3 linked regions of the Homo sapiens genome follow. The protein of the gene in region 1 interacts with the protein of each later gene in a biochemical or structural test. Each region holds a gene or a part of one and is shown in the gene's direction. Other genes may lie near its edges. The genes, in order: AKT3, TRPV4 and IWS1.

What was found.
Region 2: the proteins of AKT3 (region 1) and TRPV4 interact in a test that uses a peptide from one of them, tested with the Homo sapiens proteins (one study listed by BioGRID).
Region 3: of the proteins of AKT3 (region 1) and IWS1, one has a biochemical effect on the other in vitro, tested with the Homo sapiens proteins (one study listed by BioGRID).

What each region holds. Positions count from the first base shown.
Region 1 is NC_000001.11:243,499,195-243,504,331, reverse strand, and holds the end of AKT3 (RAC-gamma serine/threonine-protein kinase), read left to right. Parts: 3' UTR 1-4,545; coding exon of another isoform or gene 4,546-4,589; 3' UTR 4,590-4,608; downstream 4,609-5,137. Other genes in the region: SDCCAG8 (serologically defined colon cancer antigen 8), read right to left, coding at 4,547-4,576. UniProt on the Homo sapiens protein: AKT3 is one of 3 closely related serine/threonine-protein kinases (AKT1, AKT2 and AKT3) called the AKT kinase, and which regulate many processes including metabolism, proliferation, cell survival, growth and angiogenesis.
Region 2 is NC_000012.12:109,830,311-109,837,413, reverse strand, and holds the start of TRPV4 (transient receptor potential cation channel subfamily V member 4), read left to right. Parts: upstream 1-4,015; 5' UTR 4,016-4,064; exon of another isoform or gene 4,065-4,066; intron 4,067-7,103. UniProt on the Homo sapiens protein: Non-selective calcium permeant cation channel involved in osmotic sensitivity and mechanosensitivity. Activation by exposure to hypotonicity within the physiological range exhibits an outward rectification.
Region 3 is NC_000002.12:127,488,440-127,495,556, reverse strand, and holds part of IWS1 (protein IWS1 homolog), read left to right. Parts: intron 1-602; coding exon 603-685; intron 686-2,146; coding exon 2,147-2,276; intron 2,277-3,468; coding exon 3,469-3,586; intron 3,587-5,613; coding exon 5,614-5,725; coding exon of another isoform or gene 5,726-5,739; intron 5,740-6,321; coding exon 6,322-6,378; exon of another isoform or gene 6,379-6,599; intron 6,600-7,117.

The sequences.
Region 1 (5,137 bases):
CTTATTTAATTTTTTACTTTCAGTTCTACGTGAATTAGCTTTTTCTCAGATGTTGAAACTTTGAATGTCCTTTTATGATTTTGTTTATATTGCAGTAGTATTTATTTTTTAGTGATGAGAATTGTATGTCATGTTAGCAAACGCAGCTCCAACTTATATAAAATAGACTTACTGCAGTTACTTTTGACCCATGTGCAAGGATTGTACACGCTGATGAGAATCATGCACTTTTTCTCCTCTGTTAAAAAAAATGATAAGGCTCTGAAATGGAATATATTGGTTAGAATTTGGCTTTGGGAGAAGAGATGCTGCCATTTAACCCCTTGGTACTGAAAATGAGAAAATCCCCAACTATGCATGCCAAGGGGTTAATGAAACAAATAGCTGTTGACGTTTGCTCATTTAAGAATTTGAAACGTTATGATGACCTGGCAACAAAAAGTAATGAAGAAAATTGAGACCTGAGTGAAGATAAGAAATGATCTTTACGTGGCAAAATGAACACATCTTGAGTATTTAGGAAATGGGCAGTGAAGGCTAAGAACCTGGTGTGTTTCTTGGGATCATGGTACATTTATCACTGAATTAAGCCATCAGGGAAAAAACAACAAAAAAAGAGAACACCTCCAGCTTTTCTTTTTCTGTATATACTCATGTCCCCCAGATTCCAACATTTCTCACTGAAAGGGGGCATGTATGCAAACCTCATCTTTCTCCTTCATTAATGATGATCTTCAGATTAAACCCTTTGGTGCTAGGAGCTGACAATTTCCAAAGCAGCCTGTGAAGTCCTAGGGGCTGGGGGCCACTCTTGCGGCAAGCAGAAGGCCATCCTACTCCGCGGAGTGATCATGGAAATGTATTTTAGTTAAACTCTGACAGCTCCCAAACGGAAGACTACAGCATGACGTAGTATTATGATTGCATTGTATGAAAGAGCAAGTGACTTTCTAAGTAGGATGAATCATATTCATATGCAGATGTCTTAGCCTCTTGACGCTGGAAGTGTGGATTTATAGCTATGAAACCACTGCTGGCAGTGGGTGGGCCACTGGGACTGACGGGGGTTAAAGGGCATTTTACTAAGGCAGCTAAGACATATTCAGACATCAACGTTATCCTTCTTTTTCATATTTCTACCTGAGTGAAGTTCATCCTTAGTATTGAGTAGGAAGTTACAGTAAATGGTAGTTCATTCTTACTTACACACATAGCTAATCTTTTTTTTTTCACTTGGAATTATGTTGAATGTTTCATTTTGACAAAAAAGTAGACTAGAAGGTATGTTCTTTAAGTTGTCTTGCATCCATTATATAAGAAAGAAACAGGTGAGAGGAAGAGCAGAAAGCTGAGACTGGCTGATGTTCAGAGCACTTACTCCTCTAGAGGGAAAGCATGACACCGAACACTAAGCACACAGCTTTTTGTTGTTTTGGTTTTTTCTCCCGCAAATCTTAAAGTGATTCCCATGACCTTGGCCAAGGACACTTCTTAAAGATTAATGACTGGCACTGACATTGCCCCAGGCGGGCCACTCCTCACACTGGCTCTCAGTTCCCAGCCATGCCTGGGGCTCAGTCACTTCTATTCCACCCTCTGAGACTCCATTGGTGTCACACAAGGTGTCTTCTTGGCTTTGATTTTGAGAATCCCCTATTTTCACTTCCAGATCTGTCAGCTGCCATGGAGGAATAATAGAAAACCAGAAATGCGTGTAGAGGGAGATTTCTAAAACTTCCCTTGTGTCGCCCATAGTTGTAGTTTTGGGTTCTGGCAGGTGGAACACCCTGAAACCTGGAATCATTCTATGAGAATACAGTTCAGACTTTGCAGACTCCAGCCCATACTAACTGTCATGAAGCTTGACTTCTTGTCATAATGCAGCCATCTTGGAGGAAATTGGCCATTTCTGCTTAGATGGTTGGCAGGGTCGCGCTCAGCTTTGCTTTCTACACTAATTACATAGCATTATTCAAGTATTGTTTTCCATTTCCCATCCCTGATTTCCAGCTTCTTAAAGCTGACTGTTCTTGCAGGGGCCACTTGCTTCTCCTAGAGTACAAAAGTAAGGGCCTTCCTTACTAACTGCAGGGTCTCTCTATTACACCTCAACATACACACTTTGCTGCTACTGTTTGTACTGTCTACAGTAGAATTTCCTTATCTTGCTCCTGGTAGTGCATTACAGGCAAGCATGAAATGTAAAGTATTTATTTAAATAAAAAGAAAACCTCTAAATTGGTAATTGAATTACCTCCCTGTAGCTTTATAGTTTGTGACATTTCTTGACCTTGCTAGTTCTTTCATTAGATCTGCGCAAGATCTAGTCATCTGGTTAAGGATTTTAAGCAGATGCAACTATAAACCCAAGAAACTGTATTACTATTACTGTTGGTCATACTAAACCTGTCTATTTCCTGAAGTATATGACCCACAAGGATGTGGAATAACTAGGAGAAACTGTTTTTGTACACTGTACATCCTTAGTATTTTTACACGTATATGATAGGGATGAACATGATTTTCCTTCGTACAGACAGCTTAAATAAAGCACTATGTCAATCTGCTACTTCTCTGTTTATTGTTGTTGGATGTGGTTCTATAATCCCCCCAAATTAAATCTTCTTTAATGAAAACATGATTTTTAATAGCCCCAGCTGGTATTAACCTACCTTGTATAAAATGTGACAGGAAAATATAGAAATAATTCCTTGTAGCTCACACACACACACATAGGGGATCATTTTTACTTCAGTGAAATGGCAGTAGTGCGGTTGTGCAAACTTTGATGAACGGCTGCTTCTGAGGGGAAACGCTGACCTCTCAGCACTGGATTTAGGATGGATGTACTGTGAAGCCAGGGATGAAGGAGGTCTCAGACCCTGGGGACATTCAGACCCGAATCATCTATACAACACACGGTTTGGACCCAGAATCTGAAGGAATGTAGCTTTTCATTAACGTCTTCCTGATAATGTACTGCTCTGCATATTTCCTTTCTTAGAGTGTATTTCTAACAACATGTCATGGCAAATTAACAAACTTAGACGTGGGTGATGTAGATGGGTAGGATGGCTGGACTGCAGTCTGACTTCACGTTGAATCATTCTGGATGGGGCCTTTTTCTGATTTTACCTCATAAAGCTACTATTGTAGAAACTTGGCTTTGCTCCTGTGACGAAGCCAGACAGAGGAATGGCTTTTGGGACCAGAGTGAGTCAAGCATGTATGTGTATGTCACACGGCCAAATTTGAGGGCATTCTCACATGTGCTCTTCTCTCAAAACCACTGGGGTTGACAGATCCAGGAGGCTAAAAAAAAGTGACCTCTATAATTCTTTAAAGGTGCTATTTTTAGAATATTGTATAATTTATTCACAGTATATCTAAAACAGAATTAAGGACAATTAAAATATCTTATGTGACAGCCTTTATGTCTAGCACATTTGATGAAATAAAAAACTTCTGAATCTGAATAGAAGTTCTACTGTTTCAGGCTTGAACCTTTTACATGCTCAAGAGATTCAAATGGTCTCTGTGTGTAGATCATGCCACCGCCTCCAAAGCCTAATCCACATCACTTCTGAGAGGCAAGGCTGAGCATATGGTGACATCAGCTCTGTGTTGAGATGGTGATGAGGATGATGGCTCGCTGGCCAGGCAGGGCAGCCGAAGGTCAGGGACCTGTCCTAACTAACTGCAGCCTTGCCTTTAGTGTTTGTCATTCTCAGATACAACACGGTATGTCCAGTGTCCGTTTTTATTACTTTAAAGCATTTGAGGGCTTAATTGTGTATAGTAGAAATACTATTTTAGACAAATAATTATCTGTGTACAGATATTTGATATACTCTAAGTAAATTTTCTAATTTCACTAAGTACGTTTTTAGGCTCCTCTCAAATACTGCGTATTGAAGAAAAAAATCTGACACCACCGAGCCAAAGATGCTTTTTTGTCTGTTTTCGTTGTTTAACAGAATGGAAAGAGTAATGCATAGTGCTTCCTGGTGTCTCCTGATTGATTGATTGTGCACAAAGTAGGACGATAAATAAATAAAATGGAGTCTGATGGGACATTGATTAAAGGTGAAGGATGATTGATATATAGATCATGAAAAGAAAAATGAATGGCAGGAAAAAAAGTTTGGTCCTTAATATACTTTGGCCTAGTTAAAATATGTGCCTTTTTGGTGTGTTTTGTTCATCACTACAAGATAAAAAGGAAACATTACAACTCAAGTCTTTAAAAAGTTCATTTATTGAAAATCATATGTATAACCTAGCATACGAATGAGCAGATTTAAACACATAACTTCAAGCCATTTCTGAAAACATACACCAGGAGCTCTGCTCAGCTAGAGTCAGACTCCAGCTCCAGCCCGACTGCGTGCGGGGACAGCGCCCGCGTTGATGAGGACCAGCCCCACTGCAGGCTGAGGCGGTGTCACCCTGGGAAGGTCGTGGTGCGTTGTGGCATATTAAGTCTAAACCAGATGAATGTAAATATCTCTTTGTAAATCATTTATTTCACTCTGTTCCATCCAGGTCAGCAATCAGATTGTGGCATGCTGGGTAACTGGAAAAAATAATAAAAAGTAAGTTTCAATAGCTCATGTTCTTCAATGTTATTTGTCTTCTCATTTGCTGGTTTAGTCACCTTTTATGATGAAAACTGTTGTTGGAGAAAAAAACCTGTTGCTAAAAATGTGGAAATTATATGAAAAGTTTGTGCCTCATCTTGTCCACATCAAAGCCCTTCACATATGAAATAAGGTTAACTGGTTTAATGGGTTAAATTTGAAGACAACCTAGACAAAAGACACGCCTGCCTCTTAAATAAGGACAGTCTGGTGTTAGGACATGGCCAGAGAGCCATCTCTTCTGTCCGGGAAAGGACACATTGATTTGTGCCATAATCTGTTTACTGAAAATTTATCTGACCTTAACGGCAGGTAATTCTAGAACAAAAACAGGGTGTAGGCCAAGTGCCCCTAAGAAATTCCTCGTGAAACAATACAAGCTGAAACACCTCCAAATTTGTAACTGCAAGCAATTTATTGTAACCTATGAAAAAGTACTTTCACATGGAAACCTCACATGTGTTGGAAGAGGGGATTGGGTGTACTGAGGTCTCTTA
Region 2 (7,103 bases), on another chromosome or scaffold:
GGGATGATCTCAGACAAGTGGCCTCTTTGTGTCATTATCTATAAAATGGTGGAAGAATTCCTCCTTTCCAGGCTGTCAAAAGATGAACTGAGTTAGTGGCAGGATCAGGACTGTGCCAACTGTAAAGTGAGGTGCACGTGTCTTGTTTTTATAACTGGGTACCCTGGGTATAAAGTCCCTGAGATCCTGACCTGTCTGGCTCACCAATCTCTCCCCAGCATCTGGCACTGGACCTGGCATACAGTAAGCACTTGGTAAATGCAGACCCTTGGCTGCTGCCCAGGAACCTTTCTTAGGGGAGGTAGCTGAGTCCACCTGGGGCAGTCCAGGAGCTACGTGGAGAGCAAGGCTGCGCCCCACATGTGGCTGCCACATGACTCACAGCCAATGCTGAGGGCCTTGAAAGTTTTTCCTTCCCTAAGAGGAAACATTATTTCTGGCTAGGCACAGTGGCTCATGCCTGTAATCCCAATGTTTTGAGAGGCCAGGTTATGAGGATCACTTGAGCACGGGAGTTTGAGACCAGCTTGGGCAGCATAGCGAGACCTCACCTGTACAAAAAATAAAATTTAAAAAGCCAGGCTTGGTGACACACACCTATAGTCCCAGCTATTCAGGAGGCTGAGGCAGGAGGATCGCTTGAACCTAGGAATTTGAGGCTGCAGTGAGCTATGAGCAGGCAACTGCACTACAGCCTGGGCTACAGAGCAATACCCTGTCTCTCTCTAAAAATAAAAAAAAAAAGATTAAAAATTAAACTTAAAAAGTATATTCATATTGTTGTGTGACCCTCGTTCATCTCCAGAACTCTTTGCATCTTGCAAAACTGAAACCCTACGCCCAACAAACAGCAACCTCCCATTCTCCTCTCCCCCAGCTCCATCAACCAGGACTTTTTTTTTTTTTGAGATGGAGTCGCTCTCTGTTGCCCAGGCTGGAGTGCAGTGGCACGATCTCTGCTCACTGCAACCTCCCTCTCCCAGGTTCAAGCAATTCTGTCTCAGCCTCCCAGGTAGCTGGGATTACAGGTGCCCACCACCATGCCCAACTAATTTTTGTATTTTTAGTGGAGACGGGGTTTCATCATGTTGGCCAGGCTGGTCTCGAACTCCTGACCTCAGTTGATCTGCCCACTTCAGCCTCCCAAAGTGCTGGGATTACAGGCATGAGCCACTTCGCCTGACCCATCAACCAGTATTTTTAAAGCACCTACTAAGTGCCAGGTGCTAGACCTGTGGTCATGAACACGTTCCCTTGCTTCATGGACACTGGTACCCATTTTTTAGGTGAGGAAACTGAGGCACAGAGAGAGAGGGAGGCTCTTGCCCACAGCTCCCACCACAGCTCCTTCTCCCATCAGCGGCAGGGCAGGATTTGAACCCCAGTGTCTGGTGCAGAGGCCAAGCTCCAGCTGCTTAGCCCAAGATGAGTCACTTCCCTACATGGGGGCCTCAGTTGCCCCATCTGTGAAATGGGGATCAGGAAAGAGCTGGGTTAGTGATGATGATGCTGAGCGCTCAGGCCCCTTCCCTCTGAGCTTAGAGAAGAGGAGGTCGCCATCCCTGGCCCCATCTCCCCCAGTTCCAGTCCCCAACATCAGCTGCCTTATGGCTGGAATCACCCTTGCCATTTTCTTTAAATTGAGACAGGCCTTTCTGCAGAAATGGGTCCCAGACTCACTCCTCCACTCTCAACCTGGCCCAGCCCCAGCCCCAGCCCTGAGGGCCCCCAGCAGATAGCTGTCTGTCAGGGAGGTGTGAGGGGCCCTGTGTTTACCTTCCTCTCCACTGCCAGACATCTGCCTGTTTACTCCGGACCCTCAGAGGGTTCTCTTTCCCACCCCAACCCCCACCATGGAGGGAGCAGCTTTTGGAGAGGCCATACTCCTCTCCAAGCCTCAGTTTCCCACTTGCAAAATGGGTAGAGCAAACCCTACCTCACAGCCTGTTCTCCCTCTCATCCCCTAGGCTTCTGTGCTCAGTGAGTTAATTATTAGGGTTTGTTTCTTTGTAAATGTTTCACGCTGGAGGTGAACACATCACTCCTATTCAGGGGTACACACACACACACACTCTCTCTCTCTCTCTTTCGCCTCCCCACCCAGCAATTCTAAAATTTCACTTTCCAGCTGTTGGACCTCAGGAGAGATGCTGCTATTTTCAAGCTGAGGAGGAAGGAGCTACCCCACAGTCCCTGAGTCAGCTCAATTTAGTGAAAACACTAATGATGAAAATGGCATGGCTCTGGGCCGGGCACGGCGGCTCACACCTGTAATCCCAGCACTTTGGGAGGCCAAAGTGGGTGGATCAACTGAGGTCAGGGGTTCAAGACCAGCCTGGCCAACATGGTGAAACCCTGTCTCTACTAAAAATACAAAAAATTAGCCTGGCGTGGTGGCGCATGCCTGTAATCCCAGCCCCCAGGAGGCTGAGGCAGGAGAATCGCTTGAACTCAGGAGGCAGAGGTTGCAGTGAGCTGAGATCACACCCCTGAACTCCAGCCTGGGCGACAGAGTAAGACTCTGTCTCAAAAAAAAAAAAAAAAGGGCTCTGCACAGCCTGGATGCTCCCAGCATCTTCACTGCGACTGTGAGGTGAGGACTTTTGTATGCCCCACTCTACAGGGGGATGTAGAGGCACTGAGGCACAAAGGTGAAGGGACTTGCATAGGGCTGCTGGGTTAGAGAGTCACAGAGCCAAGCTGTGGGCCTGCTAGGCTTTCCAACCACCCTGGAGGAAGTGAGCTGCCCATCCTGTGGAGGTATTCAAGTGGACTCAGTGCTGGGTAGAGGGTATGGCTATGTGTTGGGGCCCACCTTTGTTATCTGATAAAAGAAAATACATGGGTAGGTGTGGTGGCTCATGCCTATACTCTCAGTGCTTTGGGAGACTGAAGTGGGAGGATCACTTGAGGCCAGGAGTTGTAGACCGGCTGCCCTCCCCCACCCCCCCTTCTACAAAAAAATAAAAATTAGTGGGGTGTGGTGGCGCATGCCTGTACTCCCAGCTGCTCAGGAGGCTGAGGTGGGAGGATCTCTTGAGGCCAGGAGTTTGAGGCTGTAGTGAGCCGTGATCATGCCACTGCACTTCAACCTGGGTGACAAAGGGAGAACATGTATCAAAAATAATAATAATAATAAAAAAAATAAACAAAAACGCATTGAGCCAGGCACGGTGACTCAGACCTCTAATCCCAGCACTTTGGGAGGCCGAGGTGGGTAGATCGCTTGAGCCTGGAGTTTGAGACCAGCCTAGGCAACATAGTGAGACCCTATCTCTGCAAAAAATTTAAATAAAATTAGCCAAGCATGGTGGTAGGCGTCTGTGGTCTCAGTTACTAGGGAGGCTGATACGGGAGGATTGCTTGAACGCTGGTGGTTGAGGCTGCAGTGATTCCTGATCACGCCACCGCACTCCAGCCTGGGCAACAGAGTGAGACCCTGTCTCAAAAACAACAGCAACAAAACATTGATGGCCTACTCCGAGGCAGGCTTCGCAGTAAGCACTGGGTGAAGACCAAGGAGAGCAGCTCACATTTATTTACCCCTGAACCATCTCTATGGGCCATACCCGAGGGTAGGGACCTCCTTCAACGCCTCGGAGGAAATTGTCTGCTGAATGAATGAATGAGCAAACACGTGGAGGACTGGGCCGGGACGCCCATTTAGAGACTAGGACACAGTCCCAGGGCGGCCCGAAGTCACGGAGCAAGATCGAATCGGAGCCGATTCCAACTAGAGCCCTCTCCAAAGACCGTCTGCCGCTCTATCCGGGGATCGCGACACCCATTTTCCAGGCGAGGAAACTGAGGCCCTGGCCCTGCACCTCCCCCGCAGGGGAGGCCCTCGCTGGGCGGGCGGGGTGCGAGTAGGGGCCGCCCCTTCTAGGGCCTGCGCTCGGCGGGGTCCGCGAGCCGGCGGGTGGGCGGGGAGCTGGCCGGGGGCGGCGCGCGGCTGGAACCTGAGCCGGCGGAGGAGGGACCCGCGGGCGGACGGGCGCCGGGCGGGCCGGCCGGGATTCAGGAAGCGCGGATCTCCCGGCCGCCGGCGCCCAGCCGTCCCGGAGGTAAGTGGGGCCCGGGCCCGGGAGGGGCGGCTCAGCCGAGGTCCCCTCGCGCCCCTGGGGACATCTCCGTGGCCCGTCCGGCTCCGGGGGGTCCCGAGGCTCCAAAATGCGGGCCAGGGGCGCGGGAGACGGAAGGCACCAGGTTCCGCAGGCGCCAGCCTCTCAGCTAAGTGCCCTTGGGCCGGACACCGGCTCTTTGGGTCTCGGTTTTATCACCTGTGAAATGGGCACCAACGTGGGGCCTGGGGTAGCAGGTCTGGGGGGAGGGCGGTTCGGTTCCCTGAGACCCCAAGCCAGGGAACCAAAGGCCCGGAGCCTTGCAGCCCACCTTAGGAGACTTGGAAGAGGGATTTCGGGGGACCTAAGGTTTGCCCTTGGCCCCTGAGCATGTCGGAGGGAATTTGGAGTCTGGAGCTTCCAAAGGCTTCTTCTTGGTTACTGAGTCCCGGAGAGACGGCTGTTTCCTCCAAGAGGCATGAAAATCTTTAACCTCTAGTTCTGCCCTGGACTCTCAGGACGTCCCGGGGGCGGGTGGCTCCTGGGGGTGGGTAGCGGGGGTGGGGGTGGGGGAGAGAGAGACTCCCACACTCCCCGCTTGCCTGGAAACACCAACCACAGATGCATTCATCGAGCCACCCACTGCTCCAGCCTGCCCCAGCTGTTCCCTCTGTCTGTCCTCTCTGTTTTGCAGATGGGGAAACTGAGGCTTAGGTCGGGGATCTAGACAATTGGGATTTAAACCCAGGGACTATCCAGCCCCAAAGCCCTTCCCACCACACCAGGTGGCCTGTCCTGGGGCCAGCTCTGCACACAGGGCCTGGTGCCCCCGGGGTGCTTGGGAAGTGGCAGGGCAGAGGTGGGCCCTGTGGCTGTTCTGGCTCAGCTTCTAAAACAAGAGCCTCTGCTGGGGGCAGAGGGGCCGTGAACCCCTGAAATGTTAGGCAGATACCCTGTGGGAGCTTTGTTCTGGGATGCTAAGAACCGCTTGAGGATTTAAGCTTTGCCACTTTGGCTCCGGAGCAAGGGCAGAGGGTAAGTCGGGACTCCCCGGGCTCCTGAGGAGGGTGACGAGGTGGGCTTTTGGGGGAACAAGGGTAGAAAGGTCAGGCCTGGGTTATCTGCGGGGCTAAGAGCGGGCCTGTGTGGGGCCCGGGGTGTGCTCTGCAGTCCCCTGCTGTGTGACCTTGGCCTGGTCCCTTAGCTGTCTGAGCCTTTGTGTTCTCTCCTCTGTAATACTGGGGTGCCTGAGGGCAAGCCCCCAGGGCTGTCGTGAGGACCGATGACCTTCCAGGAACCTGGCACAGCCACTGTTGGCTGCCATCAATGTTTAACCAGTTGTCGTTGCCCCAAACATTTTCTTAACAAAGAGGGTGAAAAAAGTCAATTGGCCATTTCCACATTTCTCTAGTTCATTCTGTTTGAAGAATGATGGGAACCAGAAAGCCTGGACACCCACCTTGATTGGTGAATTGCACGCGGAAGGGGTCCCAGACACAAATGGCAAATGGCAGTCATAGTTCAGGGCGGTTCACTTTGTAAGATCAAGGTGGGGCTGTTTTGAAATGGAGGTAACCAGGGAATGGTTGCCTGAACAAAAAGGGTGTGATGCCCCCAGGAGGGATGTTTCACATGAGCTCCGGTGAGGATGGCTGGGATTCCCCAGGTGAAACCCAGATACCTTATATCTGGGGAAGGGGCTGTGGAGGTTCCTCCTGCCTTATCTGGTGCCAACTGGGCCTCTGCCACTTACTCCCTCCTCCAGCAAATGCTCTCTGCAAGCTCACCTGTGCCAGCTCTGGGCTGGGCACTGGAGCAGTGAGATGCTTCCAATCCCAGCTTCGCTGTAGCCTGAGGCGTGTGAAGGCAAGAAGGATTTTCCCTTGTGGCCCCCCGGGGAGGAGCTCCCACACCTGACTTGTGAGCATCTAGCAAGGTGTGCATGGATGGCCGACGCTTAGTAAATGTATGCTGTGGAATGGATGGGGTCAGGGGAGAATGCCGTAGGGTAGGAGGACTGGCCCAGGAAGGACCCACGAGGGCTTGGTCAAGGTAGTGTTTAAGCCGCACCTTAAAGAATAAATGCAGAAGTAGAGGAAAGAGTATTCAGGCAAAGAGAATGGCACTAGCAGAGATATGACTTTTACCTGTTACCAGGTGGCTACACCTGGGGTTTATAGAGCAGAGAAATAGTTCTGTTTGTCTGGAGTTTGTGACGTGACTGGAAAGGGTGAGGGATCAGACAGGCAGGAGCTAAATCAGACCCAGAGGCCCAGAAGTCCTGCCTGGGAGTGACACGGTTGTTTGTCTGTTCTAGAAAGGTCCCTGTGGCTGCAGAGTGGGAAAGATTGGAGGAGCTCAGACAGAGAGGCTGGCCCCAAGGCTGGGGAAGTCATCCAAGCTCTGAGTGGAGAGCGGCAGCTGGAAGGAGATGTAGGAGGGAAGGAAACACACAAGACTGAGCCTCATGTGCCTGGCACATAGTAGGTGCTCAGTCAGTATCTATGGCATGGTTGTCTGAACAAATACTTTTGAGATGGTCAAAGTCCTTTGAGTTCCTTCCTCTGTTCCTAGGGGGATGGGGTCTACATGAAGTGGGTGTCTCTACTCCATGCAGGCCCTTGACCCTGCTGTCTGCCTCAGTTTCCCCCATTTGACTTTGGGAAAGACACTCCAGTCCGTTCTCCAAATTATAGGGACCCAGGTAACAGCTCCTCTTGTTGTCACAGATAGGGTCTGGGGAGCCAAGATAACATTTATTTCATGCCAGTGGGCCCTCTGGAATGCTCCACATCGCCCATTTGGAGCAGAATTCACCTGTTAAAGATTAATTCCGATCTCTTGAGATAAGTGGCTGCTGTTATGAACTCTGGGTACAAGGTTCTGTCTGGCTTTAGCCAACCCTGGGTTGCATTAACAACTATTATGATGGTGGCAAGCCTTTATTGAGCACTTACTGTGTGCCAAGCACTGAGTCAAGCACCCTCAGCACATTTGGATACAAAACTATTTTTGTCTCTATTTTTCAGAGGGCAGAATGAG
Region 3 (7,117 bases), on another chromosome or scaffold:
GAGACACTTGTTGAGAGTTCAGCATGGATTCAATGATCTGTGTCTAGGATTTCTTTCAAAACAATTCAAGAATGGAGGGAAAGTAGCTAAAAGAAGACTAGCTATGTGTATTCAGTTGTTGAAATATATGCAACAGGTATATTATTCTATATTTGTAGAATTTGAAATTTTTCATAATTTAAAAAAATAGAAAAAACTGCCCAAGTAATACTGAAACTCTTCTTTGATATAGTATATTCCAATATCATATAACCTCACACCTGGAAAATTGTTCCTAATATAATAAACCAGAATTTCCCAGTTTTAATTTGTACCTTTAATGAACTCTGAAAATTTGACAGTTATGCTAATGTTCTACATTAAAATTGTTTCTCTCAATTTGTAGTTGTTAAAGGCAATTATTCTAATAGTTTTTTGGGTTTGACTGACATAGACAGATACAGAGCTTGGTGCTCTGCAGAAGATCCATCTTAAATTATTCTTTCTTGTAGGAAAAATTGTTTCTTTGAAAAACTGTTATTTTAAGGTTCAGAATTACAGTGAATTCAATATTAATAAAAAGTACTGTTTTAAAAAAAAATCTTTATTTTTTTTCTGAATAGGAAGACAGACAGTTGAACAATCAAAAAAAGCCAGCACTGAAAAAATTAACTTTACTGCCTGCTGTAGTTATGCACCTTAAGAAGTAAGTATTTTGTTTTCTTTAAAATGTCTTTTTCCTTTTCATGGAATGATAATTCAAATGATGTACTGGTGTTCTAGGAATATTAAATAATGATAGACTTCTATCGGTTCACAGAAAGATAATGAATAAAATTTCCTAAATTATATTTCTTCATAAATTTTTATTAAGCCTTGATGCCTGGTGCAAACAGAACAAATAAAAAATTGATACTAACGAAAGAAAAACTTGGAAACTACTAATTTTGTGTTTTTTTGTTTTGTTTTTGTTTTTTTGGTAAAGACAGGATCTTGCTATGTTGCCCAGGCTTGTCTTGAACTCCTGGGCTTAAGTAATCCTCCCACCTCATCCTCTCAAAGTGCTGGAATTACAGACATGAGCCACTGCACCTGGCCACTAATTTTGTTCTTTATAGACAGTTTTTGGTCTGGTAAAATTGCATCTGTTTTCTCCGTGTGATGGAAAATAGTAAATCTTGGAAGATCCTACCTGAAGGCTGCATTGTACAAGGCTTATATGACTCTAATGTGTCACAATTATTGATCCTTCTGAAGTAATGATGCCCTTTTTGAGTAGATCCTTGTTTCTAACTTTTTTCATTGATTTGCTTTTTTTTTTTTTTTTTTTTTAATTAGAGACAGGATCTCGCTGTGTTGCCCAGGCTGGTCTCGAACTCCTGGGCTCAGCCGATCTTCCCGTCTCAACACCCCAAAGGCAAAGTACTGGAATGGGATTACAGGTGTGAGCCACCACACCGGGCCCTGATTTGCTTATATTTCTGAGCAACCTTGCTTTCTCTTTGAACTAAGCCACAGCCTACTTTTGATGACTGAGGAAATGTATTGGTGCATCAGTGAGCTGCCACCAGCATGGCCTAGAGCATCTGTAACTAGAAAATTTCTCCCTCTATTCTAACAGGGGAAACTATCTGTGGCAGGTTTTATGTATATAATGTTATCTTTTCTATTAACATAACTGATTCCAGTACATAAAATGGAATTTAAGTATTATTTTATTGAGTTTTTTTTTTTTTTTTTTGTCCTGCCAGTGGAGTGCTAGTCTCATTGGTGTCCTGCAGAGAAGAGCAAATCTGGGTTCACCACCATGTAAAACTGTTCAAGAATCACTATTTTGATAGATTGAACGTTTTTTTTTTTTAGTTGAAAAGATTGGAGTTAATTGTTCTTACTGTCTGTACCATTCATATCAGCATTAATTTATCTTGTGTAACTTGAGTTTGTTTTGTTTTCAGCAAATCATCTTTGTCAAGTATATGCATTTCTGGAAAATAAGAACTAAATGTCATACTGCTTTCGAAACCAGAATGGTGTTCAGTAAATGTCAAATTTATATGAGTAACGCTTTAAAAGCAGTTTTTAGAAACATCACTAAATATGTAAGAAAAGTCGGAAGATACAGTAGAACCAAGGTTCACAGAATTTTTAAAAATTATTGTTACTGCAGGCAGGACCTTAAAGAAACATTCATTGACAGTGGTGTGATGTCTGCCATCAAAGAATGGCTCTCACCTCTACCAGATAGGAGTTTGCCTGCACTCAAGATCCGGGAGGAGCTGCTGAAGATCCTGCAAGAGGTTAGAGGCAGATAATCTGACTGTTCTTTATTAATTATCTAATGTGGTCTGTATGGTCATAACCTGTGTAGTTTACAGTGTTTTTATATGTTATCTCTGCTACAGCCTGCCAGAAGAGGGGTTGGAAAAAAGGAACATATCTAATAAAATGAGCGTGAAAGGGAAGACCTTATAAAACTTCATGTAACTATCGCATTGAAGGGAAAAAATCTTAGAGTAGCTGTAATGTGTCTGAGAAGAGTAGTACAGTAGTGGGCAAGTTCCAGGGAGAAATGTGACGCAGAATGAACACCAAATTCAGAATCATATGAACTTGCATTTGAATCTTGAGCTGGGCCACCTTACGTAGTTGTGACACCTTGGGTAAGCTATTTAACTTCTGAAGGAATTCCCAAGGAAACCTCCTATGCCACGCACTGTGCCAGGTGCTTTATATATGTATTGATTCGTTTTTTCCTCACAGTAAACTGAGAAGGTAGGTGTATTATTTCCATTTTACAGATGAGGGAATTAAGATGCAGAGAAGTTAAACGACTCGTCAAGGTCACATAGCTAGAAGGTGGCTGTGCTTGGGTTCAGTCTTAGGTCTATTGGATTCTGAGGCCTGTGCTGGCTCCTGTATTAAACTGCTAACCTCTGAGTACGCTTGGTTCATACTTTCTCACATTGTTAGGTTTTACTTCAACTCAGCTGTAATACTGAGCTCTCAACCTCTTTTTGTTTTTTTTTTTTTTGAGACGGAGTTTTGCTTCTGGTGCCCAGGCTGGAGTGCAGTGGCACCACCTCGGCTCACTTCAACCTCCGCTTCCTAGGTTCAAGCGATTCTCCTGCCTCAGCCTCCCGAGTAGCTGGGATTACAGGCGCCTGCCTCCACACCTGGCTAATTTTTGTATTTTTAGTAGAGATGGGTTTCACCACATGTTGGCCAGGCTGGTCTTGAACTCTTGACCTCAGGTGATCCACCCGCCTCAGCCTCCCAAAGTGCTGGGATTACAGGCGTGAGCCACCATGCCTGGCCTGAACTCTGAACTTTTGATGTGGACACAAAGTATCTTTGTGTTCTATGTCTGTAGATCCTGAAAATGGAATTTTTTATTTGTTCTGTTGTGAATGTGCCAGGTCTCTAGAATAGACTAGCAAGACCCCCAGCTTCCGAGTGATTAATATGTGTGTATGTGTTTATGTTCCCCAGCTGCCTAGTGTGAGCCAGGAGACCCTGAAGCATAGTGGGATTGGACGAGCAGTGATGTATCTCTATAAACACCCCAAGGAGTCAAGGTCTAACAAGGACATGGCAGGGAAATTAATCAGTATGTAAATTTTCCTTTTTGTTTGTTGTGTTTATGTGTATAGATAAGAGAGAGATGCGTATATATAAAAGCTGTATTTTTACCAGTATTTGTTTTAAACGAGTCGGTAAAGTGGAATAGAAATTTTTGAATAACTTCTTACAGGTACTAGCATTTTCTCTTAGACTTTAAAAAAAAACCTCAATATAATTAAGTATGCTATTCAGTATTAAAAATAGCAAGTAAGAGGCTGGGTGTGGTGGCTTAACGCCTGTAATCCCAGCACTTTGGGAGGCTTAGGTGGGCGGATCACAAGGTCAGGAGATCGAGACCATCCTAGCTAACACGATGAAACCCCATCTCTACTAAAAATACAAAAAATTAGCCGGGCATGGTGGTATACACGAGTAGTCCCAGCTACTCGGGAGGCTGAGGCAGGAGAATCACTTGAACCCGGGAGGCGGAGGTTGCAGTGAGCCGAGATCGCGCCACTGCACTCCAGCCTGGGCAACAAGAGCGAGACTCCGTCTCAAAAAAAAAAAAATTGCAAGTAAAAAGTATGCATTTTCTAGTCATGGGTCGAGAGCATGGAGAAAGAGAGGGGTTAGATTGCAGGCCATGGAGTTGATATTACCTGGGTTCAGATCATGAATCCACCACCTACCTTACTGCATTTCCTTAGCTAGTGATTTGTGCTCTGTAAAGTTGAGATAATTATGTGTTTTCTTTTGGGTGACTTTAAAGATTAAATGAGAGGTTGTGTCTAAAGCACGGTGCTTAGCACATAGTAAGTACTCAAGAAACAGCCATTGTTGTTGTTACTTGCACAATGGTCTTCAAAACCTTTTTGCATGTTCTTATTTAATGATGCCAGAGAAATCCAGAGAAGTCTAAACCAAAATTTATGTAATCAAGCGCCATGTTTGTGAAATTCTTCAGTTTTACGAATGAAACCCGTGTTTGTTTTTGTTGTCCTCCTTAACTCTTCCTGTCCTCCATGTTGAAAAGGAATTTTTAGAACTTCAAGGCTAGATTGAAAAAGTAACTACTACGTTCGAATAGAATAATTATTTTTCTTTTGAATTGTTAAGTTTATCAAAAGCTTTTAGAGAAATGTAAATTTCTTCTATAAACCAGAGATATACTACCATCTTTGATCTTGTCAGTAAACTGCAGCTTACTGCCTGTTAAGTAATAAACTTTTGGTGCTTTTATGCAGTAGTTTGCAACTTTATTTTTTTGCCCTAGACTGAGAAAAGCAGAATATCCCCACTGGTTTCCATGACTTACTACAGCAGTGATTCTGAATCCAGAAGTGGGGTCAATGGGGTGGTTTTAAAAGATACGTGGACCCCCTGAGAATCCCTGCTTCCTTCTTTGTGTGACAGCACCCATGTTCGGTCTATAAAGGTCCTTTCTTGTTTTTATAGTGTATTAAATGTAGCAGTAAGCTACATTATGTCTTAGAACAAAGACATCAGTTGGCTCCTGGACTTTGACTGACTGAACAGTGGCATATACTTTCTTTCATGGTCATTGTAGCAGCTATGTTAGACTTAATGAAGTACAAAGTCTCCACCCGCACTATTAAACTGTAATTTTTAAAGGTACAGACCATTTTGTAAGGTAGTTGTAAAGGAGTTTGTTCTGGGTTAGGATAAGAAAGCAGAATTTCAAGACTTTTTTATTTCCAGTAGCGTAAACTTAGAAATTAGTCTGCCTTTTAAAATAAATAAATAAAAATTTTAAATAAATGTCTTTTATGAAATGTCAATCCAGCTAATTGTTGACTATTAAAGTGTATCACATGTTACTTTCTTTAAATCTCTGTGGTGATCTTTTACATTAAATTTTCTGAATCAGCCAGAGTCAGTCAGTACACTGGCATTATGCTTTGTTTATCCTATAAATTACTCTGAAATAATGGACTCTTCAAGGAAAGAATATTCTAAATGTCTAGAATATCCCCTCACACTGGGGTGCAATTATTTGAAAAAAATGGAAATGCAATTTTATGGACAAAATAATTGATTTTTTTCTTACTACAGATGAGTGGTCTAGGCCTATATTTGGTCTTACCTCAAACTACAAAGGAATGACAAGAGAAGAAAGGGAGCAGAGAGATCTAGAACAGATGCCTCAACGACGAAGAATGAACAGGTATGAGGGAACAGGTATGAGTAAGTGGAATACACGTTATTGTTGCAGTAACTCAGTTTTAAGTAAGATCATTAGGAAGCCTGCAAGATGATAGGATTTCCTTTCCTCTCAGCTTGATATGTGTACATAATTCATAATATCCTTTTAGTTTAAATGTGATAGTGTATAGTGAGGGTCCTGTCCTCCTAACCAGACCTTTCTGGGTCAGTTTGTTGGAACAGGGCCTGTTTCAGGATACTGATTGCTTGTGTTGTTCCATCCACTTGAGAAAACAACTTTCTGGGTCCCGTTTCCGAGTTCCTAGAAGAAAAAATGTTATAGTTTTAGTTTGTATTGATAATAGTGGATACAGTTGCATCCAGGAGGACAGGGTCATTAGTTACAAATGTGGCAATTACGGCTCATCCACAAGGAAACCTGTTATGCAAATGAATACTAAAATGAGTAGTACTTTTTAAAGATTAGGAATTATTTTCCCTGATCCATCGTAAAAGAGCTATTAATAGTTATGGTCTAAGTTTGATTTTTAGTTTGCTCTTTTTCTGAGTTATTAGGTTCTAATATTCCTGGTATCTCCTTGTTTACTTTTTTTTCAGCACTGGTGGTCAGACACCCAGAAGAGACCTGGAAAAGGTGCTGACAGGAGAGGAGAAGTAAGGTTTTAATGTTAATTTTTCTTCCTAGACTATATAGAGAATTTCCGTTTGCTGCTTTAAGAAAAGTAGTAAATGAAATGATGTTATGCTCTCATTTGTGGGAGGTGACTTTCATTTTAACGTTTAGTATCTACAAAGCATTGTATTGGGTACTCTGGGGATGTAAGGAAAATTGAGAAAATAATTCATTCAATAAAGATTTTATTGCTGTTTGCTAAGTGCTAGACTCCTTGTTGTGCTCTGAGAATATAAAAACAAATTAAAAATAGTCTATGCTCTCAAAAGTGTAAGTCTTTACAAGGATGATAGGCAAAGGGAGGTCTTTGGTAAAGCCATGGGCTAAGTGTGCCAGGTCTGTGTTTGGAATGGCAAGTAGACTGAAGGGGTTGGACAGTAGTATGGGGCCTGAGGTGGTAGAAGATAAGGTTGGAAATAATAGACCGGTGAAGGGCTTTGAATCAAGATGAGGAATTTTCACGTCTTGTGATTCCACAGGAAGTTTTTGAGGCTGGATGTGAAGCCATCTGGTTTGATTTGATTTAGGGTGCTGATGCCAATGGCATCATGTAGGATGGATTGGAGGGCAGTGGGACTGAGGCAGTGATACAGCTAAACAGAGGTGGTAGTTGGGAAACAGAGGGGTGAGAAGACATTGCAGAGGCAAAGCTGTCATATGTTGGTGACTTAGTGGGAGAGAAGATGGCTAGAGTTGAAGACCTCAGCCAAAATTTTAACC